Linked DNA regions of Homo sapiens: region 1 is linked to region 2. Evidence: fine-mapped expression QTL. A gene starts in region 2. The other region holds a variant in brackets. All regions are shown on one strand. Distances are from middle to middle. Region 1 has its middle 58 kb from the start of LINC01987. Region 2 holds the start of TNRC6C (trinucleotide repeat containing adaptor 6C).

Evidence for each region. PIP is the estimated chance that this variant, and not a neighbour inherited with it, causes the effect.
Region 1: its variant is the best candidate, but not a certain one, in a credible set for the expression of TNRC6C in tibial nerve (GTEx, PIP 0.89).

What each region holds. Positions count from the first base shown.
Region 1 is chr17:77,783,403-77,788,772 of GRCh38, reverse strand. No RefSeq gene overlaps it. Among named protein-coding and RNA genes, the nearest start is that of LINC01987, 58 kb to the right of the region's middle. The variant T/C (reference allele first, on the strand shown) is at 2,515.
Region 2 is chr17:77,956,524-77,961,893 of GRCh38, reverse strand. TNRC6C (trinucleotide repeat containing adaptor 6C) reads right to left here and starts at 3,191. Exons shown (of 23, transcript NM_001142640.2): 1 at 2,626-3,191. RefSeq lists enhancers at 2,256-2,814, 2,815-3,374 and silencers at 3,047-3,506, 3,527-3,576.

The DNA of each region.
Region 1 (5,370 bases), 170 kb after region 2:
CTGTTTCCACCTGGGTAGTTGGGTATCAACAAGGGTGCAGATCTGAACAGAAGACACAGGTTGGACACAGAAGGCTGTGACCCACATGAATGAGTCATGTGAGTGGGGCCTCTTCCCAGCTGGCCTCGACGGTCCCATCCCATCGACGCAGAGCTCCCCCAGCCTCCTCCCCACATCCACGTGGTCATTCTGGACATCTCCTCCCTCTCCCTTCTGCCTGACATGCAGGCAGTCAGGATTTCTCTCCCGGGGAGTCCAGCATCTGTCATTTCCCGTTTGGATCCATGCCTACCCTCTTGGCCTGGGGGTAGGAGACTGTCCACCCCACCTGGATGGGACAGTGGCATCCTCTCCAGCCACCGACACTGACCGTGCCTCTTCCATACAGTCTTCTCTCCTTTCCCGACTCCCTCTTTTTTTTTTTTTTGAGACAGACTCTCACTCTGAGGCTGGAGTGCAATGGCGCGATCTCAGCTCACTGCAACCTCCGTTTCCCAGGTTCAAGGATTCTCCTGCCTCAGCCTCCAGAGTAGCTGGGACTACAGGTGCGTGCCACCACACCCAGCTAATTTTTGTATTTTTAGTAGAGAAGGGGTTTCACCATGTTTGCCAGGCTGGTCTTGAACTCCTGACTTCAAGTGATCCTCCTGCCTCGGCCTCCCAAAGTGCTGGGATTACAGGCATGAGCCACCGCACCAGAACCCTGATTCCCTCTTGCTCGATCCATGGCCCAGCCCCTGAAACCTGCTACGACCTTCAGCCACCAGCTTCCTCAGGCCCATCTCCTGTGGCTCCTTCCTTCACTCCTCTGCACTCTGCTGCGAGGTCCCTGAGCACCCGCTCCTTTTCTTGCCTTTGTGGCTTTATCCCACAGTGCCTACCTAAGCACTCTTTCTGTTCTTCTGACCTATGTCCACCCACTATGACCAACTTCTTTTCATCCTCAAACCCAGCTCTGCAGTCACCTGGTTCATGAAGTCTCTGATGACCCACCCACCCCAGGACGAGAGAGGCCCTCTCTCTTCTGTGTGCCCTTTGAGCCAGGCACGGGCTTCACCACCTAGAAGGCATCCAATACCTCATGGGCGTGACATTCTTGGTGATGGGTGCTGTCTTGTTCTGATCTCTGCACTGCACCACCGGGCCCAGCACACAGAAGGCAGCATGAAATGCAGGTTAAACACACCCAACCAGACCCTTTGGGTGCAAGGACCTTGCCTTTCTCACCTTTGCACCTTCTGAACAAAGCAGCAGGTCCAGTCGCTGACATTTGCTGAATGAATGGATGCTGGATGCGCGAAGACCTGGGCGAGGAGCGTATGAACGGGCGTGTGTGTGTGGACGCGGGGAAGGGCAGGAGGCAGGCTGCAGCGGTCAGCACAGGGGCGGTGTGGGCGGGGAAGTGCTTGCTTGCTTGCTTGCAAACACACATGTCACGCTCGGGTTGAGCATCCCTCATAATGGCCTTATTTTGGCTTCTCTAAATTGATTCCTGATGTGCTCAAGTGTGGCCCTGGCATCTTTGGGGGTTGGAAATTCCGGATGCTGCAGTAATTGTTCTTGCTAATTACCAGGAAGCATCAAATAAGAGGAGCTTGTTTTCTCTTCCTGGCTGGATTTTGTTATGCTAATTAGACTTGTGTAAGCTGTTGCTCTTGAACCTGGAGAGTTAGAAAAACATTTGCATTAATACCTGGGAAGCTGCTGCAGAAGCCAGTTATTATTTTAATGATGGCCATTGAAGAGTGCTCCTGTTTGGGGGCTGAGTTCAGGTGTGTGCATGTGTGCGTGTGAGTGTGCATGCATGTGAGTGTGCCTGGGTGTGAGTGTGCATACGTGCATGTGCGTGGTGTTCTAATGGCCTGTCCCGTGCTATGCACTTGCTTGCTTGGTGAGACGGCAAGTCTCATTGCCTCTGCAGCACAGACCCTCATTCATCCCTCATCCCCTCCTGGGTAGCCAGGAGCCAAGATATGAAGGCAAGAGGGGTAATGAGCTCTTAAATTCTGGTCTTCGCTTTTCAAGTCAATACCAATGTTAATTAAACATCAACCACCCAGATTTCCAGTCTGGAAGGCAAGGAGGGAAGCCACCTCTCTCTGGAGTTCTCAGGGACTAATGGAGGCTCTCCTGGCCTTGTCTTCCGGCCACCTGGCTCAGTCCCTGCCCTTCCCTCCTCAAAACCGCAGGTGCTTCCCACAACTTCTTGGCCACCTTCAGCCCACAGTGGTTCCCTGTGTGAAGGGAGATGTGGGTGGAAACACTTTTGGAAAGACATTGGCAGCAAGGGGAGTGGGTAGGGTCCTGATGCTTTTTGCACAGACCCTTGAGGGAACTGTGAAAGGAAAATAAATCTTGGGGCCTCAAAATCACTGAACTAAAGGGAAAGTCAGGCTGGGAACTGCTTAGGGCAAACCTGCTTCCCGTTCTATTCAAAGTCCCCCCTTTGCTCTCTGAGATACATGCATTGCCTCCTTTGGAGAGGCTCATCAGAAACTCAAAAGAATGCTACCA[T/C]TTGTCTCCTCTCTACCTATGAGCGGAAGCCCTCTCCCTGCTTCCAGTTGTCCTGCCTTTCCGGGACAGAACCAATGTTCATCTTACATATGTTGATTGATGTCTCTTGTCTCCCTAAAGTGTATAAAACCGAGCTGTGCCCTGACCACCTTGGGCACATGTCATCAGGACCTCCTGAGGCTGTGTCATGGGCGCACGTCCTCAACCTTGGCAAAATAAACTTCCTAAATTAACTGAGACTGTCTCAGATATTTTGGGTTCACAGAACCACAGGCCGCCTGGCCCTGTGCTGCCCACCTGCACCCGCTGGGCCTTCAGCTGATGAGAGGAGTGTGAGGGCCAGGGTGGCTTCACCTGCTGGGAACCTTGCTCGGCCAGCTTCTCTCCCCTGGCCCAGGGACAGGTCCTCGAGTCCCTGGCACAGTGACTCTCATTCTCTGGCTGAATACCTCCTTCTTCCCTCCCCTTGACACCCCCACACGCACCCCACATGCCCAGCGGCAGCTTCTGTTGCAGAGAGCCCGGCGAAGGGAGCTCACGGAAGCTCCAGGAGCCTGAGAGCCTTAGGAGGCCCTGGGTGTCAACGTTGCCTGATTTTCTCATTTCATCTCTTATAAGCTTTCAGGACGCTAACATGATTAAGTTCTTCACACAATTTATTAGCATCATGTTGGAAATCCAGTAGTATATTATACTGTCTGAGTAATCCAATTAGCAAAATGTATTTATTTAACAGGAATATCAGCCGCATGCGATCCCACACCATGTCCCTGCCCAGCCTTCTCTACTCCTGATGCATGTCCCCCATGGAAAGGATGTTCTGTGCACGCAGGAGGCAATGAGGGAGGGTGAGGCAGCCCAGAACCCATGGTGTGGGGTGGGGAGAGAGTGGTGTGGGTGGCCGGGTCACCCCCTAGAGCTGGGATCGAGTGAGCCACGCTGAGTTGCAGGTGTTCAGTTCTGAAGCAGGATGTTCCTGTGGGAAGGGTGAGTCCACACAGCACTAGGTCTAAATTCTGGCTTTGCCCTGGCTTCTCACTCTGTGAATCCTGGGCAGGCTCTTGAAAGTTTCTGCACCCAATTTCCTTAATATCTGTGAAATGGAGACAAAATCCCCTCCTTGCAAGCCAGGCCAGTTCTGAGGATGGGGGTTGGGGGACGGATGAGACTTTTCTCTGCCCGTCTGGTCCTGTAAGCCCCCTCACTTCAAGATATCCCACCTTTTGAGGCCAAACCAATGTATAATGTTCATGTACTGATTAACGATTTTGCCTGAAACTTCTGCTTTCCTGAAATATACTCCCGCCTTTGAAAACCCTTGCTTGTGGCCGGGTGTGGTGGCTCATGCCTGTAATCCCAGCACTCTGGGAAGCCCAGGTGGGCGGATCAACTGAGGTCAGGAGTTTGAGATCAGCCTGGCCAACAAGGCCAAACCCCAACTCTATAAAAAATACAAAAATTAGCTAGGCATGGTGGTGCATGCCTGTAGTCTGAGCTACTTAGGAGGCTGAGGCAGGAGAATTGCTTTAACCCAAGAGGCAGAAGTTGCAGTGCACCGTGATCTCACCACTGAACTCCAGCCTGGGTGACAGAGTGAGACACAACAAGAAAAGAAACCACCAACAAGAAAAAACAAAACCGTTGCTCGTGAGCCATTGAGGATGTTGGGTCTTAAGTGTGAGCTGCCTGATTCTCCTTGCTTGGCACCTGGCAAATAAACGCCCTCCTTTCTCCTGCTGCAAACCTCAGTGTGGGTATTTGGCTTTACCAACCTGGGTGAGTGGAGCCAGTTTTGTTTTGGTAACAGACCCTCCTAGCTGTTCCTAGCTCCTCCATCTGCTTGGAGATGGTGCCTGGGCTCTGGATGGGGCTCCCCATCCTTGGCATAGCGCTGGGTGCTCAGAGCAAAGATCAGCCAAAAGGAGTCCACGCCTCTGCTGTTCAGTGCAAGGGCGATGACAGTGTAAACAAGAGCAGTGCCCTGACACCTGAGGAGCTGAATGAGGATGCTCGGCTGCTCGCGGGTGGCTGGGAAATCACCTCCTTGAGAAGGTGTGGAGAGGCGGAAGACACTGCGTTCTCACTTCTAACCAGCTGCCTCTCGAGAGGCACCACCGCTGTGGCAGCACCGTTGAGCCCTCCCTTGCCATGGTCACCAGCATCCGTCCGGGCACCCGGAGGCCCCTGATGAAGGCAGGTGTGGTGGGGGCTGCGCGTGTCCATCACTGCCTCATCCTGCCTGCCCACCCCCAAACTGGGTGCCAGAGTCCTTCTCGTGCTGATTTCACTCATCACAGTTGTGGTCCTGCCAGGTGGGCACCCTCAGCCATTCTCCCTGGACCATCACCATCAAGGCTGTGGCTGCAGGAACCTGGGCCTACCTAGGCTGGGGGGGGTCCCCTCCCCAACTTCCAGCCAGTCCCCAGCCACCATGTCCAGGAAACATTAGGCTGTCTTTCTCACTCCTTGTACTTGATTCTTTCATTTGCACAGTGGGCAGGGAGCAAGACCCTTGCTTCCTACTCTAGAAATTCTTAGCAAGAACGACTGCTGTCCGGAAGTTTTTCTTTTTTTTTAATTTTTTTGTTTTTTTGTTTTTTTGTTTGAGACAGAGTCTCCTTCTGTTGCCCAGGCTGGAGTGCAATGGTGCAATCTTGGCTCACCGTAACCTCCGCCTCCCTGGTTCAAGCGATTCTCCTGCCTCAGCCACCTGAGTAGTTGGGATTACAGGCACCCATTATCATGCCTGGCTTATTTTTGTATTTTTTTAAAGATGGGGTTTCAACATGTCGGCCAGGCTGGTCTTGAACTCCTGACCTCAGGTGATCCTCCTGTCTTGGTCTCCCAAAGTGCTGG
Region 2 (5,370 bases):
TCTCAGGAAAGCCAGCTGTTTAACAAAAAGGTGGCGGTAGCGGTGATGAAAAATACTGTATTTAGTTTCATATATCCTCTGTATGACTTAGTTATTTTTTAATCACCGAATGTCAAACGAAACAGTTCATTCCACTCTACCTTCACAATCAGCATTCTAAAGGCAACTATTTACTCCAAAGTTCCTAAGCCAACTAAATATAAATGTAAACCTGTTTCGAAATGATGTTAGTGTTAAGACATATGCTACTCGAAACCCACCCTCGCCCCCCGCAATAAACACGAAGGACGAAAATCTAAAACCAACACTTACATATACTCCAGGTTACTACCAGAATATTTAAATGGCAGAATCCGAAATGAAATTGTTAAGATTAAACCTTATGACAGACAGTCTCAGTATCAACCGTATTTAATTTCATACCTTAAAAGTAAAACCGGCCGAGCGTGGTGGCTCACGCCTGTAATCCCAGCACTTTGGGAGGCCGAGACAGGCGGATCACCTGAAGTCAGGAGTTCGAGACCAGCCTGGCCAACATGGCAAAACCCCGTCTCTACTAAAAATACAAAAATTAGCCGGGCGTGGCGGCGGGCACCTGTAATCCCTGCTACTCGGGAGGGTGAGGCAAGAGAATCGCTTGAACCCGGGAGGCGGAGGTTGCAGTGACCCGAGATCGTGCCATTGCACTCCAGCCTGGGCAACAAGAACGAAACTGTCTCAAAAAAAAAAAAAAAAAGTAAAACCGAGGTAAGGTCAGCAAGGTCTTTGTTTTGGACAAGAAGCACAGAAGAGTTACAAACAAGCTTTTAAAATCAGATCCTTATAATAAAAACGAGTGTGTGTGTGTGTTTACTATTACCGTTTTCTGAGCTATCAATTTCTCACGGCCTGACTATGCCTATGGTCAGGTCATGAGAAATCTGTATGAAAAACAGCTTCCAAGAATGTCTATTCTTATGAAAATAAATATTAAAAACTTTCTGTAGAAAAAAAACTTTCAGTATAGGTAAAGTTACAACTGTTCACATCATTACTTTGTTCTATTAATACACACAAAATTAATTCCGACAACTGAACTAGTCATTTTAAAAACCCTGTTTTGCATTATTTCCCCCAACAAAGCATCCTAGGGGTGCTACAGTGAAACATGCTCAAAGACCATTGCCACCTCTGCTGTTCTGGAACAATGTAAATTTCTTCAAGGTGCCCTCTACTAACCAAGTTCATCTGGCCTGGGGCTAAGTTTTATCATTTATTCTTTCATACAGTACTGAAGGAAATCCGGAATCTATGAATATCATTGCCAACACCCCCTACACATTTCAAACCAGCTACCACTGTCCTCTGAAATCACTCAAGCCAGGTTTCCAGGGTCTCAACTCATTCGCATAGTTATTCAATTCCAACTGCAGGAAATCACTTGCATAAAGTAGGCCTTATGCAGGCTCAAATTACATTCAGGGACGTACGAGGCTCTCACAGCGATCACCATAAATTGGCTACCTTGTACTGGCCGAAGTACGTCAACGTGAACACCAGACACTCGAGAAAAACCGAACCTCGGCTACACAATGGATTAACCCAGTCAGAAGGCTCCAACTTGCAACTCCTTAAAGACGCTGAAGTTGGACATCTACAGAGCACCATTTTGAGTTTAGAATCCGCAGTTCACGCCTAGAAATAACCGAGCGGACCACTCAAATGGAGGTTTCATTTGGCGGAGGCAAAGGTTTGAGACAACTCCACTAATTACGTGCAGAATCACCAATACCGTCAAATGCCTTCGAATGCAATAGGTGCAGCCACGATCTAGCGGCTCCTCCTCCCCTACCTCCCGGCACAACATCCAAGCAGCAAGCCTTCATTTTTGCTAAGATCCCCAAAGCTCCGTGTAACATGCTTGCCAGTTATTTCTTCCCCAGGTTAACAGGCAGGGAACCCCCACATCCACATCTGCACATTTTCATAGCTACGAATCAATTAATTAAATCTCGTCCTCAAGGTAAAGGTGCAAAGGAGGCACCGCTTAAAGCAGAGGCGGCAACCAGGCGCTCGGGTTACGTTATCTGATAACAGGACAGATGTTGTACGGCTCGTTTTCCTCATACGCATTACTCCGCAGTCCGCAGCACCGTTAGAAAATCCACCTGATTTCAGAGCCGCAGAGCGCCCAGGGGTCCTTCTCCGCCCACCCGCAGCACGCCCCGGGTTTTTCTCTTCCCCCAAACAACGGCACCGGGCTCCTGCACCAAAACACGGCGGGTTCGCGCCTGCCATCACCAGTGCAAAATCTGCGGGGGGCTGCCCGGAAAGGACCGAATTTCACCGCTGCATGAGTTTTAAAAGGGAGGGGGCACATCCATCTTCAGCCCTCCATTCCACTCCCGTTTGATTGTGATGCACACCGGGCGTCTGCACAGCCCCGTCTCACACTAGCACACACGCGCCCCGGCCCCGGCCGCTTCCCGCCGCTCCCCTCAAACCCGGCCGGCCCGGGGCCTGGCGCCGCACGCGGGTCGCTAGGGGCCAGCGCCCGCCCCGGCTCGGCTCGGCCGAACAAAGGGCCCGCGAACCTCCCGGCAAAGTTGCGGCTGCGGCGAGGAGCGGGCGGACTGCCGCGCTCACCTGGGCTCCGTCCCCGGCGGCGGCGGCGGCTCCGCGGGGCTCCGGTGGCGCGGGCCTGGCGGCGGCGGCGGCACGAACAACCGCCCGAGGGCCTCGGGAGTGCGCGGGCGGCGGGGGCCCGCTCAGCGCCGGCGCCACGGACTCAGGTCCCGGCGCGGGCGGCGGCGGCGGCTGCGGCGGCGGCGCGGGCGAGTGGGCGGCGGCGCGTCCCGGCAGGTCCAGGTCCGGCCCCGGCAACGCCGCGACGCGTCCTCCTCCTCACGCCCGGCGGGATGCGGCTCCGGCGGGGTCCGGGTCCTAGGCGGCGGCGGCGGCGGCGGTGGCAGCTGCGGACGGCTGGGCGCGGGGCCGCTCCGCTCCCTCCGCCTCCGGCTCGGGCGGGCCCGCGGCTACTGCGACGGTGACGGCGGCGGGAGCGCGGCGGGCGCTGGGACTGCCCTGTCAGGGGGCGGCCCGGGCGGCGCTCAAGACTGCGCGGCGGCGGGGCCGGCGGCGGCGGCTACGGCTCCCGGGGCCGTCGCGCTGAGGTGCGGAGCTGCCACCGCGGCCATCTTGTTGCTCTAACTGACAAGAACCCCCCTCCCCCCGCTTCAGCCAGACGGGGCGCTCGCGCCCCCTTCCCCGCCCCGCGTTGGCCTCCAACAGGAAGTCGTCCCGGCCCCTAGCACGTGACTCCCACCGTATCTGCATACCGGAGGGCGAACTGGCCAATCGGCACTCTGCACCTGAGCTCCTCCCCCGCGCGCCCCTCCCGGCCCATTGGCTCCTCGGCCAGGCCACGCCTCCTCCTTTCCCCTTAATACCCGCCCGCGCTGTGGTTCCCTGCACCGCGCGGGGAGCGCGCCGGGGTGCGAGCGGTGCGCGCTCCGAGTGGCCGGGACGCGCGCCAGTCCTGGGAGCTTGCACTGCTCGGGGGGGTTACGTGGAGACTTGCGTGGTGTCCTTTACCGCCGCCGCCTGCCCTCCGGTCCCTGGGCGCTGTGGCTCCGCGTTAGGGTGCTGGCGGGAGGGGTGCCGATCCGGTTCTGCGCGTCCGGTGGGTTCTCCGGGCCAGCGCCCCGCGGCGCCCGGGCTTTATGCTGTAATTGCGCCCGGCGGCGCCCGGCGCCCGCACCGGCGCGCGTCTCGCCCGTGCCGTGCACACGCCCTGCACCGCCCCACTTTGCACACGCACACGCACACGAGTCCTTGGGGCCCTGGAGCATCGTGCTCGCCTCGCGCCTCCCGGCCCGCCCTTGCGCTCAGTCGCTCCCCAGGGAGCGCCCAGCTGCGAGCAAAACAAGCCTCGCTGCGAAACAGTCCCCCGGGGAGACAGCCCTTTCCCCGGAGCACAGACACCACACCTTCACCGCGCAAGCCTTCGGTCCGGGCCGAACCCGGGCGCTCCGGCGCCTACGCACCCCACGATTCCTCCCCGGTGCTCCGTACGCCGCCGTGATCCTCCATTCCACGGCTCCTCGATATCCATTATTCATTAGTGGTAGGTAAGGTCAGGCGCAATGTGCAATTCGAAAAGTCCCTTTTTAACTTTCGGTTCAAGCCAGGAGAAGATTTTGAAACCAAGAATTTTCTCCATTTTCATGCAAGGTCGCAGAAGCAGGCTAGCTTTTCCCCCATCGTTCAGTGGAGGATCAGCAGTGCTACTTGGAAGTTGGTATTGGAAGAGGCCATTCCCTGTCTACGTGTCCCTGTCTTGAAGAGGAGATAATAACACACTAGTACTTTCGCAATGCAATTTTGTTACCGCAAGTGTCATGCTTTGAAACGACTGTGGATGAAAGAGACAAATTCCCCGCTCTCGTTTCCCTTCAGGGTCCCATGAGCTCCTTTCTTCTTACTGCCATATTTTAAGCCCTCCGGTAGTCAGATTCACAACCAGCCTCTAAAGGGTCGTCAAATGTCTGTTGTATCGTGTTGTGTATTTCCCCTCCCGAGAACCCACATCCCTTAGAAGGATCTGAAGGCAGAGGGAGCTGACATGGAGGCTTCTGCCTTGTCTATTCATTTTATTTACGTTCATTTAATTCTCGACTGCAGAGAACCTACATCTTTTGTATTTCTCAAAGGTAGAGGTATTATCACATGCTCCAGAAGGGAGTGCAAAATAACATCTTCAAAATAGGCAGCGCCCACGAAGTAGACTGCTGCTACATAAATGAGGAATCCAGGTATCTGGGTGGACCAGAGTGGACCAATCATTGTGATAAGCAGAGCTTCACTTTTTGGAAAATTGAACCAAAATACATTATTTAGCATTGTCTTTGGTTCCCTTTCTTATCCCCCTCCCTCAGTTTAATCAGGCAAAAATCGTCCTCTTCTCCAATGATATTAGACTCTGAGCACCGAGAAAAGGCAGAACTATAGAGACTATATGTTCTGAACCCCAAACTGGACTCATAGTTTGGCATGTGGACCTGTGACAGTAGAGATAATGTTTGAAACTAAAGTTGACCCAGAAACATTGAGGCATATGGTGGCCATGAATGTTAAGACTGCAGAGCAGTGTCACTTATTAGTGGTTGTTTGAACTGATAAAGTATGAGTAGGAACCCCAGGCACAACTGTAAAAATGGGTACGTTCATGTTTCGGGTTGGTCATCCTGTTATCAGCCCTGCCACCACCACCTTATAACTAAGGTATAAGTTGATCATCTATAGGGCTGGGCATGGTGGCTCACGCCTGTAATCCCAGCACTTTGGGAGGCCAAGGCAGACGGATCAGGAGGTCAGGAGATGGAGACCATG